Regions from separate parts of the Homo sapiens genome. Here all the other regions are linked to region 3. The links come from fine-mapping of genetic effects on gene expression. A gene starts in region 3. Each other region holds a variant in brackets. All regions are shown on one strand. Distances are between the middles of the regions.

What was found.
Region 1: its variant is fine-mapped to the expression of ACACB in sigmoid colon (GTEx, PIP above 0.99).
Region 2: its variant is fine-mapped to the expression of ACACB in whole blood (INTERVAL, PIP above 0.99).

The regions. Positions count from the first base shown.
Region 1 is chr12:109,238,020-109,244,844 of GRCh38, reverse strand. It overlaps ACACB (acetyl-CoA carboxylase beta), which reads right to left. Exons shown (of 53, transcript NM_001093.4): 35 at 4,860-5,015; 36 at 3,564-3,767; 37 at 2,253-2,408. Among named protein-coding and RNA genes, the nearest start is that of FOXN4, 68 kb to the left of the region's middle. RefSeq lists enhancers at 4,434-4,933, 4,934-5,435. The variant A/T (reference allele first, on the strand shown) is at 2,647.
Region 2 is chr12:109,150,195-109,157,019 of GRCh38, reverse strand. The region is part of intron 2 of ACACB (acetyl-CoA carboxylase beta); the gene reads right to left. Among named protein-coding and RNA genes, the nearest start is that of ACACB, 37 kb to the right of the region's middle. RefSeq lists a silencer at 2,366-2,525. The variant G/A (reference allele first, on the strand shown) is at 3,144.
Region 3 is chr12:109,113,229-109,120,053 of GRCh38, reverse strand. ACACB (acetyl-CoA carboxylase beta) reads right to left here and starts at 3,467. Exons shown (of 53, transcript NM_001093.4): 1 at 3,350-3,467. It overlaps LOC105369974 (a long non-coding RNA gene), which reads left to right. Exons shown (of 3, transcript XR_945332.3): 3 at 1,270-1,400.

The DNA.
Region 1 (6,825 bases), 120 kb before region 3:
TCAGTTTTCCATTCTCTCGATAGATAGATAGATAAATAGATAGATATAGACATAGATATAGATATAGAGGCAGACAGACAGACAGACAGCTGGGTGTGGTGGCTCATGCCTGTAATCCAAACACTTCGGGAGGCTGAGGCAGGCAGATCACCTGAGGCCGGGAGTTTGAGACCAGCCTGGCCAACATAGTGAAACCCTGTCTCCACTATAAATAAAAAAATTAGCCAGGCATGGTGGCTCATGCCTGTAAAAAAGAGACAATGGATTTATCTAAAAAAGAGACGATGGATTTGCTTCTGGTTCAGTCATGTTTCTTCCCTTATAGCTCTTGAGGTCAAAGGCAAAAGGATACAGACAATGACATTCTTAATCATAAGTTTCCACTTATTAAGCGCCCACTGAATACATACACTTTTCCAACAACTTTTGGTAGGTACTGTTATTATTCTTATTTTACAGAAGAGGAAACTGAGGCCCAGAGAGGTGAAGGAACTTGGCTAGGGACAGCAGGAAGCAAGGGGACAGATCCAGCATTCGAGCTGAGGCCCGAGTTACTCTAAAGAGCAGCTTTTCCTACTCTTTCATATCCTCTATGCATGAGGCATAGGCAGAGGTAGGAACAGATGCTTCCTGCCTACACTGGAAGGTCCTTGACCTTGGTTTCATGAACGTCATTCACTTGTTGATGGGGTTGTTGTTTTTCTTGTAAATTTGTTTGCGTTCTTTGTAGATTCTGGATATTAGCCCTTTGTCAGATGAGTAGATTGCAAAAATTTTCTCCCATTCTGTAGGCTGCCTGTTCACTCTAATGGTAGTTTCTTTTGCTGTGCAGAAGCTCTTTAGTTTAATTAGATCCCATACCAACATGGCACATGTATACATATGTAACAAACCTGCACATTGTGCACATGTACCCTAGAACTTAAAGTATAATAAATAAATAAATAAATATATATATATATATATAATGTCATTCCAAAGCAATCCTGGAAAATGAAGAGACATTCACATCACCAATGTCAGTGGTTCAGGCTCCTTTAAAGCCCCTAGGGCATAAACATATAAAGGCATAAAAAATACTTGAAGAAAATGCACCCAAATGTTCTTTCAGGCATTGATGGTGGGAAAATTACATATGAATAGAATTTTACTTCCTTATTCTTACCTTTCCATAGTTTCCTATGTATACTTTAATCATCAGAAAAACATAATAAAACATTATTTTTTTGTTTTTGTTTTTGTTTTTGAGACAGAGTCTCGCTCTGTCACCAGGGCTAGAGTGCAGTGGGGCCATCTCAGCTCACTGCAGCCTCCACCTCCCGGGTTCAAGCAATTCTCCTGCCTCAGCCTCCCGAGTAGCTGGGACTACAGGTGCCTGCCACTACGCCTGGTTAATTTTCGTATTTTTAGTAGAGATGGGGTTTCACCATGTTGGCCAGGCTGGTCTTAAACTCCTGACCTCAAATGATCCACCTGCCTCAGCCTCCCAAAGTGCTGGGATTACAGGCGTGAGCCACTGTGCCCAACCCAAAACATTATTTTTTAAGAGTAGACTAAAAATTACTCAAGGCAGTGACCCCCTCCTCTTTCCCACAGCTGTCTAGACTTCGAATGGTGCCTGGTAAGTAGCAGGTACTTAATAAATGACCATTAAAAAGACCAGAAGGAAACACATCAAAATGTTAAGCAATTTGTCATCAGAGTGTGGGACTAGGAATTATTTTTTCTTTGTTCCAACCTCCTTTATTTTCTGAAGTTTCTATATCCTATGACTTTTATCATTGGGATAAATTAGTCTTATTTGGAGAAAAATACTATGAAGTCGTTCTCAACACATTCATTTCTTTTTCTTCAATGCAGACCTTGTTCTTTTTTTTTGAAGACGGGGTCTCACTCGGTCACCCAGCCTGGAGTGCAGTGGTGACATCATGGCTCACTGCAGCCTCGACCTCCCAGGCTCAGGTGATCCTTCCTGCCTCAGCCTTCAAGTAGCTGGGACTACAGGCATGCGCCACCACGCCCGGTTAATTTTTGTATATTTTGTAGAGATGGGGTTCTTCAACTCCTGGGCTCAAGCAATCCTCCCTCCTCGGCCTCCCGAAGTGCTGGGATTATAGGCGTGAGCCACCGCACCTGGCAAGACCTTGTCCTTTAGACTAGGTCTTTAGAAGGAGAATTAAGGATGGGCTTTGGTTCTGGTGGAGTCTGCTGGGAGGACCCAGGGGGTACCGCGTCTGAGCCGCCGGACTTGCCTGCCTGAACATTTCCGGGAAGTCATAGATGTAGGTGGTTCCCAGGGTCTGGGCCTGGAATCGCTTGGCCTGGAGCAGATCCTTGGTGACGTAGGGAGTATTGATCAGCATCCCGTGCTGGGGCCCTTGCTTGTTGCCGAAGGAGTGAAACATGATCTGGACCAGAAAGGAGGGAAAACAGAGAGTGAGAGAGAATCACACATCTCCCCCAATTTATTTCTGCCCAGTCCTCAATGAAAATGCAGGTGGGGGAAGCAAAGCATGTCACATGGCATGACAAAGTGAGTGCCTGGGCTACGTAAAACTCCCTTCTTCACCACTGTGGAGGGCCAGAACAAGAAGGGACAACAGGGGCTGTGGAATGCAGTTCCAAAAATACAGTGATCAAGGCATC[A/T]CACACTCCCAACAACAGGCATGCATGGAAACGCTGGTGAAATCCGAACGTGGTCAGTGTTGGTGCGAACAGTCCTGTGCCAATGTCAATTTCCTGTTTTAATGATGTGCAATGGTGAAGTTCAATCAACATTACCATTGGGGGAAACTGGGTGAAAATCCTCTGCACTATTTTTTTTCTTCTGTACTAATTTTGCAACTGCTTGAGAGTCTTCAGTCTTCAATTACTCCAAAATAAAAAGTGCATAGACCAGGCACAATGGCATGTGCCTGTAGTCCCAGCTACTTGGGAGGCTGAGGCCAGAAGATTGCTTGAACCCAGGAGTTCAGGCCCAGTCTAGGCAATATCTCTTTAAAAAATGGCGTGTATATATATGTATATTTTTATGTACACACATAGGAATTTAAATGGCAGTCAAAAGAACATTTAATTCACTTTACAAAAGTCTGTCCTAGAACATGGTTGGGAAAGTATTTCCCTAAGTGAACCAATCTGAGGACTGCATTACAGTCAACCACAGTAGTGCACAACTTATCCCAAATATGGCCATATGGCCAGGCGTGGTGGCTCACGCCTATAATCCCAGCACTTTGGAGGTCGAGGCGGGCAGATCACTTGAAGTCAGGAATTCGAGACCAGCCTGGCCAATATGGTGACACCTTGTCTCTATCAAAAATCCAACATGGCCACAGAATGGATTAAACTTGGAGATTCACTCTCCTTTTTAGGTGAGTGAAAAACCAAGATTCAAAGGCTAACACATTTAACATAACACTCAGAGGGGGCTACCCCAACCCAGAATGACATGGGAGAGCAAGGCAAGACCGCCTCCAAATGCCATCTTAATCTACAAATTGATGGCCCAAGCAGCCTGCTTCTGCTTTGACTTAGACCCCCACGGCGCGGGCCAGCCTTACATTTCCAGATCTGGAGTCAGTCACTTCTTTGTAGAGGCTGATGTCCAGGTAGTAGCCCGACTCATTGGTGATGAACAGGCGGATGGGAACGGCACTGCCGGTGGTGGTCTGGCGGATGTTGATCTTGACCTCAGCCTGTAGCACACGGAGTTTCCACAGCCGGCTGCCGTAGCGCATAACCATGTAGCGCACGGACTCCTCGATCTGCCCCAAAACACAGCAATTCCAGTTTCAGGGCCAAGACATCCCAAGGACATTTGCAATAGCACTGATACTAATAAGAGGATGAGATATACTGACTGCAAAAACGCCTGGGACATAGTGTGTATCCAACAAAAAGTATTAACTAATAACAAGCAACGGCTCTTGCTAAGCATTTAAAACTCTACCTCATTTTGCCTTCGTAAGTACTCAAGAGAGGCGAGCTTTTCTAATCCCTCACTGACAGATAAGGAAACTGAGGCTGATAAGTGACTGAACTAGTACTGCTATGTTATACTATCTTTACATGCCTTTGACTCAAGCCATTGCACTGCTTCCTTCTGGAACTACCTGAACTAGTGAGGCCAGAGCCTCCACATGGGTCCCCTGAATCCCCCAGATACCAAACGGATGTATCAGGACTTCTCTTTTTAATAATACTATTGTATTAATTATTTTTAATAATATATATTATTAAATAATAAAATAAAATACATTTATATATTTTAATAATATTAATATATCGATATTAATATTAATTTGATTAATAATCTTAATATTTTATTTTTTAATTTTTAAAATTTTTAGTAGAGATAGGGTCTCTCCATGTTGCCCAGGCTTGTCTCAAATTCCTGGGCTCAAGCAATCTACCCACCTCAGCCTCCCAAAGTACTGGGATTACAAGTGGGGCTTCTTTCATTCCAGAATCACCACCATAAAAGTCTGTCTGCTCGTGAAGAGCCACCTGACAGGGAACATTCAGCCACAGACCTCACGGTCTCACGTCTCTCCCCACCCACATGCAGTCCCCAGCGCAGCCTGGAACCAGGGAAAGGACAAAATTTTGTTTTGAAAGACATTTTGAGCATGCTTGTCATCCTTAAAGTAAAGCATTCCCGTGCAGGGCATGGCTAAAACATAGCTCTAGAATTGAATGGCAGAAGGTTTGCTCTCCTCCCGCAGCAACTGAGGCTCAGATACGCATGGTTTCATCCTGGAACCCAGGTCTTGAGTGGCAAGAGACAATACCCCAAAGCAGCATGGCTCAGAGGGTGAACCCAGAGCCCGGTGAGAGCCCCCCTGCAAAGGCGAGACCTTGAAGGGGTCCATGATGACAGTGGGCACGAAGTTGAGGAAGATGTGGTTGCAGTCGGTGCGCACGCTGGTGTTATTGAACGCCACCTCCAGCTCGTCCATGGCCTCCAGGAGCAGCCGCTCACCCTCGTTCTGCAGGTATTCGAAGGAGGCTTCCTGCCAAAGAGTGGGAGGGGCAGCTGCTCAGGCCAGGGGTGCAGGCCTACTCCCAGCTGGCTGGAAACTCAGCCCCAAAGAGGCAGAGACAGGAGGAAAACATTCCCCTCCTCCAAAAAGTGTGCCAGGCAAGAACAGCAGAGCCCTGCCTCTCAGAGGCGAAGGGACTGCAAAGCTGTTGAGTGTATTGACATGTGTCCTATTTTCTGCATTCTGACACTTTGACACCTGGGGCCTTGCTGACCCTGGATCATACCTGGGGACACAAACCACCTGCTCTAATCACCCAGGGCCAGATTCCTGAGAACCAGAGACAGCTTCTATATGCCAGGGTCTGCTGAGATGATTCACAGCCAATCCTAAACCTGTTTACTCAGCCTCACTTTTTTCTTCTCCAGGAAACCACAATCAAGGCTCTCGTCCACGTCTTCCATGTCTTCCCCTCTGTCCCTCTGCTGCCTGACCAACCCCAGAGCCTCCCCATGTGGCCCCATGGCAGGGAAAACCCCTTCTTCTTGGGAACTATGAGTAATAAACTGTCTTTTTGATGGCAGTTGTCTCCTTATCTGTTGGCCTCACCATACCTCAACAATAATAAAACCTATTAAAACGGCTTGGCCAGGCACAGTGGCTCACGCCTATAATCCCAGCACTTTGGGAGGCCGAGATGGGTGGATCAGTTGTCAGGAGTTCGAGACCAGCCTGGCCAACATGGTGAAACTCCGTCTCTACTAAAAATACAAAAATTAGCTGGGCATGGTGGTGGGCGCCTATAATCCCAGCTACTTAGGAAGCTGACGCAGGAGAATCGCTTGAACCCGGGAGGCAGAGGTGGTAGTGAGCCAAGATCACGCCACTGCACTCCAGCCTGGGTGACAAGAGCAAATCTCTGTATCAAAATAAAAATAAAACATCTAGCTGACAGGTAGCAAAAAAACTGCAGTTAGCTTAATATCCATCAATAGGGCCAGGCGTGGTGGCTCACGCCTGTAATCCCAGCACTTTGGGAGGCCGAAGTGGGCAGATCACCTGAGGTCGGCAGTTTCAGACCAGCCTGACCAACATGGAGAAACCCCATCTCTACTAAAAATACAAAATTAGCTGGGCATGGTGGGGTGTGCCTGTAGTCCTAGCTACTCAGAAGGCTGAGGCAGGAGAATTGTTTGAACCCGGGGGTGCGGAGGTTGCAGTGAACTGAGATTGTGCCATTGCACTCCAGCCTGGGCAACAAGAGCAAAACTCCATCTCCAAAAAAATATATATATATAATAATTATATATACATTTATATAAATATATATTTATATAAATACATATAATATGTATTATATTATGTATATATAATGTTATATAACATATTATATATTATATTATGTATATTATATGTTATATTATATAATATATTATATATATTATTATATATAATTATATATATAATAATATATATATGTTTCCATCAATAGGGGATTAGTAAAAAAAAAAAAAAAATTATACACGGTACATCCATGCAAGGAAATAATATGTGGTGGACCACTCTTTATTAACAATGAAAGAGGTCCACAAGTGACTGACCAATTAAAGAATAATATATTCAAATGATCTGTCCACTCTCAGCTCTTATCTGCAACTTATGCCTACAACTCTAGGTTTCAGGGACGGAATTGTGTCTAGAAACAGTCAACAACTAAGCTGGCCCCTCAGTGACAGGATTCTCGGTCCTTGCGCTAGGTTCTTAAAAATCGTTTTCAGTCTTATTTAAAATTTTCACAATATAATCATGGATTACTTCTGTTTCTTTTTTTCTTTTTTTT
Region 2 (6,825 bases), 37 kb before region 3:
TTTCTTTTTTTCCATTAAAGTGGTTTGTGAAATGGGTACAACACTCTCCACTTAGTGCCCCCACAGTGGTATTTTGAAGATGGCATGAGACCACACCTACAAAGCACTTGGCCTGGCATACTGAAAGCACCCCATGAGTGGTAGTGGCTATTACTGTTGCACCCATCAGCCTCGAATTGGAGTTACTGAGAAGACATCTGCCTTCCACAATGGAACCGAAGTTCCTGGAGGGCGGAGGTCACGGTTTCCAACCATTTTTGCGACCCTTCCTGCTACCAGTTGCAGGCCTTATGCATGGGAGGTGTGCATGAATGTTTATGGACCAGGTAAACATATCCTAAGAAAATAAAGGATGGAGGCAGAGATTCAGCTACAGGGGTATTCCTCACTGTGCTGTTGATAATAGCCCCCCCCCAAAAAAAAAAAAAAAAACAGAGAGAAACAGCCTGAATATCCGCTACTTATAGGGGATTACTTATACTTTTTTTTTAAGAGACAGGGTCTTGCTCTGTTGCCCAGGCTGGAGTGCAATAGCACAACCATTGCTCACTACAGCCTCGATCTCCCAGGCTCAAGCAATCCTCTTCCCTTAGTCTTTCCAGTAGCTGAAACTCCAGGCATGCATCACCATCCTCAGCTAATTTTTTTTTAAGTAGAGATGGGGGTCTCACTATGTTGCCCAAGCTGGTCTCGAACTCCCGAGTTCAAGCAGTTCTCCTGCCTTGGCCTCCCAAAGCGCTAGGATTACAGGCATGAGCCACCACACCTGGGCACATTTTTTTTCAGAGATGGGGTCTTGCTATGTTGCCCAGGCTAGAGTGCAGTGGCTGTTCACAGGAACGATCATAGCACACTGCAGCCTCCAACTCCTGGGCAAAAGCATCCTCCCTCCTCAGCCTCCTGAGTATTTGGGACTACAGGCTTGCACCACCCTGCCTGGCGAGGATTATTCATACATTTTAAGGTGCACCCATTTAAAGGAACACTATGAATCCAGTAAAAGCATGTTGTAGGCAGGGATTGGCAAACATTGTCTGTCAAGGGTCAGGCAGTAAGTACTTTAGATCTGGTCAGTCTCTGTCCCACCACTCAAATCCTCCAGTGAGGCACAAAAGCAGCCATGAACTAGGCATAAATCATAAATCGATGAGCAGGCTGCAGTCCAATAAAACTTTTTTCGTAGACACTGAAATTTGAATTTCATGTAATTTTCACGTGTCACAAAACAATCTTCTTTTGATTTTTTTTTCAATCACTTAAACATGAAAAAACCATTCTCTGCTTGCAGGCCATCCCAAAACAGGCAGTGGGTCATAGTTTGCCAAGCCCAGTGGTAGAAAAATACTTAATGTTGAATGAAAAAGTGAGTTACAGAACGTTCTGCATGATTCAAGTTTATAAATTAAAACATATCTGCACCGGAAAAAAAAAAAAGCTGAAGAATATACAACTGTTAACAAACATCACAGGGGTGGAATTATGGGTGATTTTTGTTCCTCTTTTTTGCTTATCTATAATTTTCTGAATTGTCAACAACAGACACACCATCAATTTGGTAATTCTTTTTAAGTGCAATAAAATGAGGACAAAAAAGGAAAGAAACAAAACCAAGTAGGTAGAGCTACAAAGCACTCAGGCACTGAGATGCCTACGCTCATCTGCTCAGAAAATGACCCTCAATGAGAGCCTGCTCAAGTTCACGTCGATTTGCCCAGGCTTCAGCTTCAAAAGAGACCTGCCTTCCACAACCATCAGCTTCTGGAGGCGAAGGAGAGAAAGCGGGGAAGGCGTGCCCCTGCGCAAGGGCTGATCTTTAGGCACCTGTGTGCTCCGAAGCGACCTCCTCCAAGCAACGTCACCCCCAACGTCCAGCCTCCTTCCTCCCCTCCCGCCAAGGCCAGCTAGAGTTTCCAAGGCGGGCATCATCTCCCCAGCAGCCAACTCAAGCCCGTGTTTCTTTGGATGGGGGTGGGGGTAAAGGGGGCGGTGCTAAGAGGACACACAGCTTGACTTCAAGGGGAAGGAAGACTGCGTAAGTTTGTAAAAGATCATGGTCATTACAATTGCAGGCTTACTTACTTTACTTCGCGATCAGGGAAACAGATCTTGCACTTGGCAGGACTCATGTTGACCACCCCGCAGGCCAATCCCACCGGGCTCCCGCAGGGGTGCAGAGCATGCACCCCTTAACCGCCTGAAGCCGACCCGAGGCCCGGGACCCAGCAGGACAGCCAGGTCGCGACCCGGAGGCCGAGATGCAGTCCTAGAGCGCCGCGGGCGGGGTTCTGCTGCAGCCGGCGGGCGCCCAACTTCGCGCTGCGCTTGCTCCATCCCGAAATGCACCCTGCGCGCCAGAGTCCCGGGCCATCGCGCCCGCCTAGGCCCCACCCAGGCCCCGCCCCCACACCGACCCCGCCCCAGGAGGGCCCCGCCTTCCGGACGGAGCCCCGCCCCCGGGCCGGCCTACCTCCGACCCGCCGCTGAGCTTCGGCAGCCGAAATGAGCTGCGGAGATATATATTTTTAAAGCCTCTCTTCTGCTTTGCTCCCCAATATGGGACACCCCTACATATTGGCAGCAATTGATATGCTTGAATACACACACGATAGGGAAGCGGTGGAAAATATGGGAAATTTAAAATGTGAGTCAGAGGTCGCCACTGTGCCCGTTAAAAGTCCCTGTTGTCAAGTCGACTTTTATTTCCCAAAGTCCTGGTTTCTCTCATCTTTTCACCTCCACTCCCTGGGACAGGTGGCTGCGCAATCACCCAGTGTGCTTCTAGCACGCACTTTGCACCACCTGGGTCCGCTACTGAAGCGAGTGCCTCCAGGACAGGGAGGACCCCAGCAGCCCGGTGATCCGAAATAAACTTCTGGTAAGACTAACATTTACTAAGTGCTCCTTTGTTCCTCTGTGTCACTTAATCCTCGTGGCAATCTTATTGTTTTTATCCCTATAATACAGATAAGGAAACTGGGGCCCAGAGATGCATGTTATCTGAAGTGCCAGAGCCCAGGGTCTTGAACTCAGACAAACCGATTCCAGTTAGAATAAACGAATGAGGCCGGGCCTGGTAGCTCATGCCTGTAATACCAGCACTTTGGGAGGCTGAGGCAGGCGCTTGAGGTCAGGAGTTTGAGGCC[G/A]GCCTGGCCAACATGGTGACACCCTGTCTCTACTAATAATACAAAAATTAGCCGGGCATGGTGGTGCACACCTGTAGTCCCAGCTACTCGAGAGACTGAGGAGAGAGAATCACTAAAACCCGAGAGGCGGAGGTTGAAGTGAGCCCAGATGGCGGTACTGCATTCCAGCCTGAGTGACAGAGTGAGACTCCATCTCAAAAAATCAAAAATAAATGAATGAATGCTTCTTCAAGTAATGTAATAAATGCAAAGAACCAAAACACTACCTAGAAGTCATCGCAGTAATAATAAAGGTAGCCTACTTTCATAGCCAACAAACCAACCAAAAATAATGTAAATGCTGGCCAGTAAATTCCCTTCTGGGTAATCACTCTGCGGTTCTCCCAGTGTACACATTAATTAAATTTGTGTGTCTTTTCTCCAACTAATCTGCCTTTTTACAAGTTAATTTTTCAGCGAAACTTCAGAGGGCAAAGCAGAAGATATTCCCTTGGTCCCTACAATCATTATGCATTCTATGCATGTAACAAAATTTTACATGTATCCTATAAATGTGTAAAAATATAATGTATCAGAATCATGAAAACAGGCCAGGCATGGTGGCTCATGCCTGTAATCCCAGCACTTTGGGGGGCCGAGGTGGGCAGATCACTTGAGGTCAGGAGTTCAAGACCAGCCTGGCCAACATGGTGAAATTTCGTCTCTACTAAAACTACAAAAATTAGCTGGGTGTGGTGGCGGGGTGGCCTGAAGTCCCAGCTACTCCAGAGGCTGAGGCAGGAGAATCACTTGAACCCACGAGGCAGAGGTTTAAGTGAGCCGAGATCAGGCCACTGCATTCCAGCCTGGGCAACATTGCAAGACTCTGTCTCAAAACAAACAAAAACATGAAAACAAATTTTAAAATACAATTAAAAATTCACTTCACAGGAAGGCCACGTGCAGTGGCTCACACCTGTAATCCCAGCACTTTGGGAGGCCGAGGCAGGCAGATCACTTGAGGCCAGCAGTTCAAGACCAACCTGACCAACATAGTGAAACCCCATCTCTACTAAAAATATGAAAATTAGCCAGCGTGGTGGTGCATACCTGTAATTCCAGCTACTCAGGAGGCTGAGGCGGGAAGATTACCTGAGCCCAGGTAGCTGAGGCTGCAGTGAGCCATGATCTCGCTACACTCCAGCCTGGGGAATAGAGCAAGACCCTTTCTCAAAAAAAAAAAAAAAAAAAAAAAAAGAAAGAAAGAAAGAAAAGGCACAGGCAGGGCCACACTTCCCGGGGGTGCCAAGTACTTGGCCACAACATAAACACCCTGGGCCCCTGTTTAAGCAGCCATGCCTGACAGCAGTGGATAGCTATGCCCTGACCATATATTAAATAACATTTCAACAACAGGTTTAAGAAAAAAAACAGATAAACAAAATTCTCAGTTCTTCAAGTTTCTGGGAAGGTGTTCACAGCCTTGTCTTCACCTCCTCCAAAAAAGTAACCCACTGTATCCTGATTTTTAGAGATTCAAACCAAAACCAACAAGTATTCATCCCCCAAATATCCCCAGTGTAAATGTAACCACCTCAAAATAGGGAAAGCAATGAAAATCAAGAAATGAAGATATTTCAAAATACCCCAACCCTACCAAAGTCAGTTAGGATCATGCAGAAGAGAACTGCTTGCCAGCATACTTGTATTGCTCTAGATTTTTATTCTCTATTGCAAAAACCCCAACACTACTTAAACACTGTATAGATATTCTCACTTCTCTGCTAATACAGCCTGAAAGACAGCCTCACACATCTCACTATGACCCAGGGTCTCAAATAAGGGATTTCATTTAGATGGGTGGGCTCATCATTTCATCACAGTGATCATGACCTTGCATTTTTCTCTAATTGCATTATTAGGGAATAGAAGACGGAAAGAAATGAATAATATTCAGTCGGTGCAAAACTAATTGCAGTTTCTGCCATTAAAAGGGATTGCAAAAACCACGATTACTTTTGCACCAACCTAATATCCACCTCCAAGCACAACACCACCTTTATACAAACATCCATTGTTGTGCTTTTTGATGAAACAGTTCAAGCATGGTGGTAGTTGCTGTCTCATGCATTAAGCCCTTCCTCTCAGACTTACTAGAAGCTCAATTTTACTTACTGGTATTGCAGAGGGAAAACCCAGGTCAATGAACAATACACACACAAAATCAACAAGAAAATCCGCATGCATGTGGCCAGCAGCGTGGTAGAAAGACTGTGCCATCCATGGGCTTGAACTTACCCTTCCCCTCACGGATGACCTTAAGTAAATCCCGTCTCTCCACTTCCTCAACTATAAAATTATCCACATACAATTTGCCTTCATTTTTGCAGAAAAGCAAAATGAAATAATCTCTTTCAATATATGGGGTGGGGGGGACTGTGTTACATTAAGTATAGAGCAGAAGTGAATAATTTTTCTAAAATAGGGCAATGATGCTTAAGGGGGAGGGGAATGTATGAATGGTTAGTTGCTCTGTACCTTGTATTAACTTAATACAAGAACAACTCAAAGACAGGGATCCTCTTTCCCCCAAGCTCCTAGAAAACATTTTAGGAGGCCGGGCGCAGTGGCTCACACCTGTAATCCCAGCACTTTGGGAGGCCAAGGAGGGCAGATCATGAGGTCAGGAGTTCAAGACCAGCCTGGACAACATGGTGAAACCCTGTCTCTATTAAAAATACAAAAATTAGCTGGGCATGGTGGTGCATGCCTGTAATCCCAGCTACTCGGGAGGCTGAGGCAGGAGAATTGCTTGAACCGGGACCCGGGCGGTAGAGGTTGCAGTGAGCTGAAATTGTGCCACTGCACTCCAGCCTGAGCTACAGAGCGAGACTCCGTCTCAAAAAAAAAAAAAAGAAAGAAAAAAGAAAAGAAAAGAAAAAAAGAAAAAGAAAAAGAAAAAGTAAACATTTTAGGAGCTAAAGAGACTTGAAAAGAGAGTTTCTCCCAGCCCCTTCCTAAGTCAATAAATGAATAAATTAAACATTACAGGAAGATCCTTGGCATTTCACTCAGGGGCGCATAAAAATATGCATAGACAATTTAGTTTCCTGACCTGTTCCTTGCTTGGAGCCGATAAGAGATGTGGGCTGGGATGACGAACAAGCAGCTGGGAGGCTGCACTGCAAGCCCACCCAGTCTGCTATCTGGGAAAGTGGGGGCGATGCCAGGTCCCTGGTGTCAGCTCCCTTTCCTGGTATTCCTTCACCTACCTTTGCCTGCAGGGCCCCCTCTGTATGTCCAGACCCCACAGAGCCTCATTTGCCTTCCTGGGATCCAAGGTCTGCCTTGCTAAACTGTTCTTACCTCAGTGATCCCAACATGGTCGTAAATGGTGGCGGGAAGGAACACTTCAGCACCCATCTGCTGTTTTGGACTTTATCCTTTTATCGGGACACTTCACCTGCCTTTTCAATCCTCTTCCTCCTCCGTGGACACAGGTTGCTACACCTTTAAGATGTAAGCCCGGCCAGGGCTTGGGAATAACCATGCGCACAGGCAAGAACTTTGGAAGAAGCCCACCCAACTAATGGCTACTGAACCACCTCTGGGCCGTCCACCCCCAGCACTTGCTCCCACTCGATCTCAACAATCTCCTAAAGTAGGCACTAGTATTATCCTGCCTCAACAGAGCAGGAAATTG
Region 3 (6,825 bases):
TATTGAAGTCTGCAGCTGATTTGCTTCTAAATAGAAAGGAGAGTGTGTTCAAGTTGTCCTCTGATATCACCTTCACTCATTATTTAATTTAAAAATATGGAGCTTAATTAGTTCAACAGGAGTGGTGGAAAATCCTTTAATCCTTTTTTTTTTTCTTCTGAGATGGAGTCTCGCTCTGTCGCCCAGGCTAGAGTGCAGTGGCGCGATCTCAGCTTGCTGCAACGTCTGGTTCCCAGTTTCAAGCGATTCTCCTGCCTCAGCCTCCCAGGTAGCTGGGATTACAGGCGCACCACCATAACTGGCTAATTTTTGTATTTTTAGTAGAGACAGGGTTTTGCCATGTTGGTCAGGCTGGCCTTGAACTCCTGACCTCAAGTGATCTGCCTGCCTCAGCCTCCCAAAGTGCTGGGATTATAGGCGTGAGCCACCCAGCCCTGTCTCAAAATCATTTTTTTTTTTTTTTTGAGACAGAGTCTTGCTCTGTTGCCCAGGCTGGAGTGCGGTGGCACCATCTCGGTTCACGGCAAGCTCCACCTCCTGTGTTCAAGTGATTCTCCTACCTCAGCCTCCCAAGTCGCTGGGTTTACAGGCACTAGCCACCACACCCAGCTAATTTTTGTATTTTTAGTAGAGAAAGGGTTTCACCATGTTGGCCAGGTTGGTCTCAAACTCCTGACCTCAAGTGATCTAGCTCCTCAGCCTCCCAAAGTGCTGGGATTACAGGCGTGAGCCACTGTGTCTGGCCTGAAGAGACCTTTTCTATGTGTAGTTGTTTTCTGGGGCCCCAGCAAGGGTCAGAGTGGCTAAGGTATGAGCCCAGAGAGCAGGACTTCTGGAGTACAGCAGACTTGGGTGGAGGCTTTGCCATTTGTTATCTGATTGGCCTGAGCCCATCATGGAAATTCTCTGAACCTTGGTTTCCTGGCCTGTGGAATGGAATAAATAAAATCTCCTTCCTAGGATTGTCCTCAAAATTATGTGAGATCCCATAATTATTATGGCATACCTGGGGTATGCCAACTACCCAATAATCAATACCTTGGTTTCTCTGCTGTGCCCAGCCTGGATTCTCTGATACAAGGATCCCTGGATTCCTGGAATAAATGAACACGGTCTATCTTCCTAGAAAATCACCTTACTCTACGGTCATAAATTTACTATTATCACTGCAAACAGAGAGATCTATTAGGATAGGATGTGAAATGTGCATACATTTTTCCGATCAAATGCAATATTTCTAACTCTGTTTCCTGGTTTCCCTGGGTACAGGTGAACTCTACTTTGAAGTAACAAGTCACTGAATCACAAATTCAGAGGAAGCATGAGAACAAGGTATTCCAGGCCGGGTGCAGTGGCTCATGCCCGTAATCCCAGCACTTTGGGAGGCCAAGGTGAGCAGATCACTTGAGGTCAGGAGTTCGAGACCAGCCTGGCCAACATGGCAAAACCCCATCTCTACTAAAAATACAAAAATTAGCTGGGCGTGGTAGTGCTTGCCTGCAATCCCAGCTACTCGGGAGACTGAGACTGAGGAATTGCTTGAACCTGGGAGGCAGGGGTTGCAGTGAGCTGAGATTGTGCCATCGCACTCCAGCCTGGGTGACAGGACGAGACTCTGTCTCAAAAAAAAAAAAAAAAAAAGAACAAGGTCAAAGTTTCTACTGGGATAAGACTTCAAGGAAACCTCCATTTCAAAAGATTAAAATGTTTATTTCCCCATGAAGACTGGGTATCTCATGTAATGTAATACTCAAATTTCTGTCTCAGACCTAAAGGTGTTGAAAGTATGAGCGAGTTTACACAACACCTGAGCAGGAGCAAATAAAACTCTTAAGAGCTTCTGAAAGAAAGTTACAGATTAGAGATATTTTCATCTCTAAATCACATGAATTAGGATTGGCTGGGTCTTTCCACTTAAAACTTGGAGAAGTCATAAAAAGAAATCTTGTAAAGAACTCCATGTCACTATTAGCAGAAACATGCAATTTATAAAATGATATCTTTGGCCAGGCGCGGTGGCTCATGCCTGTAATCCCAGCACTCTGGGAGGCCGAGGCGGGCGGATCACTTGAGGTCAGGAGATCGAGACCATCCTGGCTAACACAGTGAAACCCTGTCTCTACTAAAAATACAAAAAAAATTAGCCGGGCGTGGTAGTGGGTGCCTGTAGTCCCAGCTACTTGGGAGGCTGAGGCAGGAGAATGGCGTGAACCCAGGAGGCGGAGCTTGCAGTGAGCACTCCATCTCAAATAATAATGATAATAATAATATCTTCACCTTTCAGTTTTTAAATTGCAAGTCCCATGTCCCGGGAATTCCCCGGTCCTGGGCAAAGTGGGATGGTTGGTCACCCAACCTATATGGATGCCCATTGATATTAAAAAATAAAAGTAATCACAATAGACATGAGGGAGAGAGTTGTGTACAGTGTGAGTGTACAGAATAAAAGGTCTGGGGGGTTTATACCAAAATGTGCACAGTGGCTACCTGGAGGAGGAGGGTTAGACAGGAATAACAGCAAGGAGACTTTTGCACGGTGCTGAGTGACTTTTTAACTTGCATATTATTTTGGAATGCATTTTTTCAACATTGAAAGAAAGTCATGTCTTCCTAGAAATATAGGATATAGGACCACTACAAACGCTTTACTCTTAGTCTCCTTTTTTTCTTTTTCTTTTCTTTTTTTTTTTTTTTGAGACAGAGTCTTGCTCTGTCAGTCAGGCTGGAATGCAGTGGCGCAATTTTAGCTCACTGCAACCCCCACCTCCTGGGTTCAAGCGATTCTCCTGCCTCAGCCTCCCAAGTAGCTGGGATTACAGGTGCCCATCACCACATCTGGCTAATTTTTATGTGTTTAGTACAGATGGGGTTTCGCCATGTTGGCCAGGCTGGTCTCGAACTCCTGACCTCAAGTGATCCACCTGCCTCTGCCTCCCAAGGTGCTGGGTGGCATGAGCCACCGTGCCCAGCCTTAGTCTGCTTTAAAAAAAAAAAAAAAAAAAAAAAGAACAACCATTTGAGGAAACAGAAACAGAATACTATTCCTTAAGACAGTAGCTTTGGAGGCAAAAAACAGAATTGTTTATAAAACGTTGTGGAACTTATATGGGAGCATGTCCAGGGATCCACACCACCATTTATAGAAGCAAAGAAAGGCCCTTCTCTTTCATCTGCGTTACATTTCGAGCTCTTCTGATTAGCTTCCTTCAAACATGACGGGAGTCGTTTTTCCCCGGGGACCCCAAGTGCATGCCTTCAGACAGGGTCTGCTCTCACTATACATTGGGTTCGAATTTACCTGGACGTTGGCAGAATGGTCCGGACCCCGGGGAGGGGCGAGCTGACTTACCACTTTATTCCTGCCGCTTTTCTCTTGCCATGTCCTCCCCACCGTGCATTCAGGGTTACATTTTCCAGGTTCCTTGTTTGCTGAGGGCCTGAATCTAAGCCTGCTAGCTGCTTACTCTGGGGACTGCAAATGTCACTTTTAGATTAATCAGCCCCTGCTGTTTAAAAATATCCCTGGAGCACTTAACCTTCAAAGCAGCAACAACCCGGGGCAAAGATGAGAAAGATCCCACGTCAAACCACTTGTGCAGCCCTGGCTACTCCTGGGAGAGTTCTGCTATCTGCCTTTTAATCCCATAACTCGCTTTATTTCATAATTCTTAGCTGTTGAAGCCATGAGGCATCTAAAGTCCATGTTGTCGTAAGCAGTAGGCAGAAAGTCATCTGGGCCCTCCTGTGACATGCTGAAAATTAACTGCCTACAGGTGTTGGTCATTTGAGAAACAAGCCCCCATTGAAAACCGTGAATGGGAAGGTGATCGCTATCAGGTCACCTGGCTTCTCTCCCCTGAAAAGATTTGGCGAAACCCTCTCAAATCACGCCACTTAATGGAATGTTTCCAATTTCTTGTGACTTGGGGATAAAAGAAAAAAACAGCTCCATTGCCACATTCTCATTCAGGGTTGACTGGCTCTTGCTAGGGTTGAGCACAGAAGAGGAAATTCAGCACACGCTGCAGTTACATAGTGTTCTGCAACGTGGGGAGGGCTGGCATGTGGGACAAAGGTCGCCTCCAAGGCCCAGCTGGAGAAGCCCAGCCAACTAGGCAGCAGGAAAGTGGAGACCACATAGGAGCACATTGTGCTCAGGCAACAGGGAAGGTGGAACCCACTTCCTGCCAACAATGATGGCCTTACTAAACAGCAAGTGGAGAAACTGGCGAGAGCGCTGAGCACGGGATCTGTGCAAAATGGTTTAAATGGAAATTGCTGCTGGGGCTGGTGCAGCCTGTTCACAGCTACTTTGTTTCTGGGCTTATTTTGCAATAAGGAACAGTCATTGAATATTGGACTTCTTGGGATTTTCTCCACTGGACTTGGAAGCATGTGCTCTGGAAACCTCAGCATTATCAGCTGTAACCCCACAGCACCAGGTACATGTTACAGGAACCGGGGTGAAGGAATGCAGGTCAAATGCCTGCACAATGCCCGGCCCGAGTCATATGTTCTCTAGCCACAGTAGCCCTTGTGATGGCTCTTAGTCTATTTATTAAGACAATAAAAGAGGTGACTCTCAAACAAACCTATGTTTCCAGGGAGAGCCATCTGTGATTCAAGGACATTTTTATAAAATTCCATTGAAAAAAATTCTTAGGCTTCTAACTTCATGAAAAAAAAATTCTTTCCCAGTGATTCCAAATAATCATGATCTAGGCAGGGTGTTGACAGTGGCAGGACTATTAGGCTTTGAAATCAAGCTGATGTGGGTTTGAATCCTCCCTCCATTAGCCATGACTTTGAGCAAATGGCTGAGCTTCAGTGTCCTCATCAACTACTTCACCATATGGGTGAGAAAATGAAATGATTTATATTGAGTTTCTGGCACAGGGGCTTGCTCATGACAAGCACTTAATATCTTTCTAATGAAATTCATTACTTGCAAAAAGACTAGACATACCCACACATACAGGTGAAGAACTCTGCAGTGATTCAGTTCTCCCTAGACACTATCTCTTTAAGACACAGGTATTTTCCAGAATATAATTGGAAGGCTTGAAACCAAAGTTATTCATAAACTCTTTCCATCAAACACAAGAACGGTAATAGAAATATATTTCTTCAAACAGCTGTTAGTTTCAGAAAGTCACAGGTATCAAGTTACATTTTTTGTTTTGTTTTGTTTTGTTTTAGAAATAGGATCTTGCTCTGTTGCCCAGGCTGGATGGAGTGCAGTGGCATGATCATAGCTCACTGCAGCCTCGAACTCCTGGGCTCAAATGATCCTCCTGCCTCAGCTTCCCAAGTAGCTAGAACTACAGGCACACACCACCCCTGGCTAATTAAAAAAAAAAAAATTTTTTTTTTTTAAAGACAAGGTCTCATTATGTTGCCCAAGTTGGTCTTGAACTCCTGGCCTAAAGCGATCTTCTTGCCTTGCCTCCTAAAGCACTGGGATTACAGGTATGAGCCACTGTACCTGGCCCAAAAAAAATTATTAAGTGACCACATGGTCTAACAAAACAAGGCACCTGGAAAGAAATCACCAGTCCTGCTGCAAACCGGACCCTCTGTGAGAATTCACATGCCTTCCCCCACCAATTAAATCAGAATTTCCAGGGATGGGGTCTGGCTTTGCATGTTTTAGCTTCTCTAGGCTGGAGGAGCACTAGCTTCTTGTTGGAAGGCTCCCTACCTTCCTCTCCCACACCCTCACCCCAAACATCATTAAGAGAGACAAAAGAACATGCTATATACACAACTAACAAGCAGAGAACATAAATTATTGATCTCCTGGTCTGCTCCGCTCACCAATATTTATATTTCCAAGCATATTTCAAAAACTTAAAAACTGGTTCCCTAGCCTGGGCAACTTAGCAAGACCCCATTTCTATTAAAAACTTAGCCAGGTATGGTGGTGCATACCAGTGGTCCCAGCTGCTCAGGAGGCTGAGGCAGGAGGATCACCTGAACCCAGGAAGTTGAGGCTGCAGTGAGCCATGACTGAGTCACTGTACTCCATCTTAAGAAACAGAGTGAGACTCTATCGCAAAAAAAAGAAAAAAAAATTGGTTCCCATTGACTTAAACTACAAAGGAACTTCCTGTTGTCAGACCCAAATTACAGTGTCAGAAGGACTCTAAACAAGGAGGCCATCTCCAGCAGAGGAATGTTCTAGCTTTCCTCAGCTTGAGTCAGCACAAGTCAGCATGTGAGGTCTTTTCAAAGTAACCCAGAGCACCTCCCTGCAACCTGTTTTTCCTTGCAAATCTTGAAGGTTTGGCAAGGATGAAAAGCCAACACCACACGCATACGCCAAAAAGTTTGCTTCTCCACCAAACATACTTGCGAAGACTTTTATATGAGAAGCAAACTGAAGCAGAAAGTGAATTTGAACAGAGATGTATTATCTAATAATGCAAGCATACTAGCAACATGCTAAAGTCTATCTTTAAAAAATGCAAACAATTTATAGTCCCTGACCTTCCCCTGCTGGATGTAGATCAAAAGCAGGCAGTGACTTTCACACAATTAATTATTTTATAACTGGACGTTTCCAGTACAACATTTGCTAATAACTGACTTCCTTGTGTTACCAATTCCAAAAGCTGTCAGAGATCTCCCTAACTCACCTGAAAAGGGAGGAAACAGGAATCATTAGGCCAGGTTCTCAGAAGCCTCCCAAACCTTGCCACGTGGAACCATCCAGCTCCACATCCAGCATGTGGGTCCTGCCTTTGCAGAGGCAGGCTCCTCAGTGTTGAATGCTCTTGTTCCTCTTTGTGGCCTGGAAAGTTCAATATCCACTCAGACATTCTC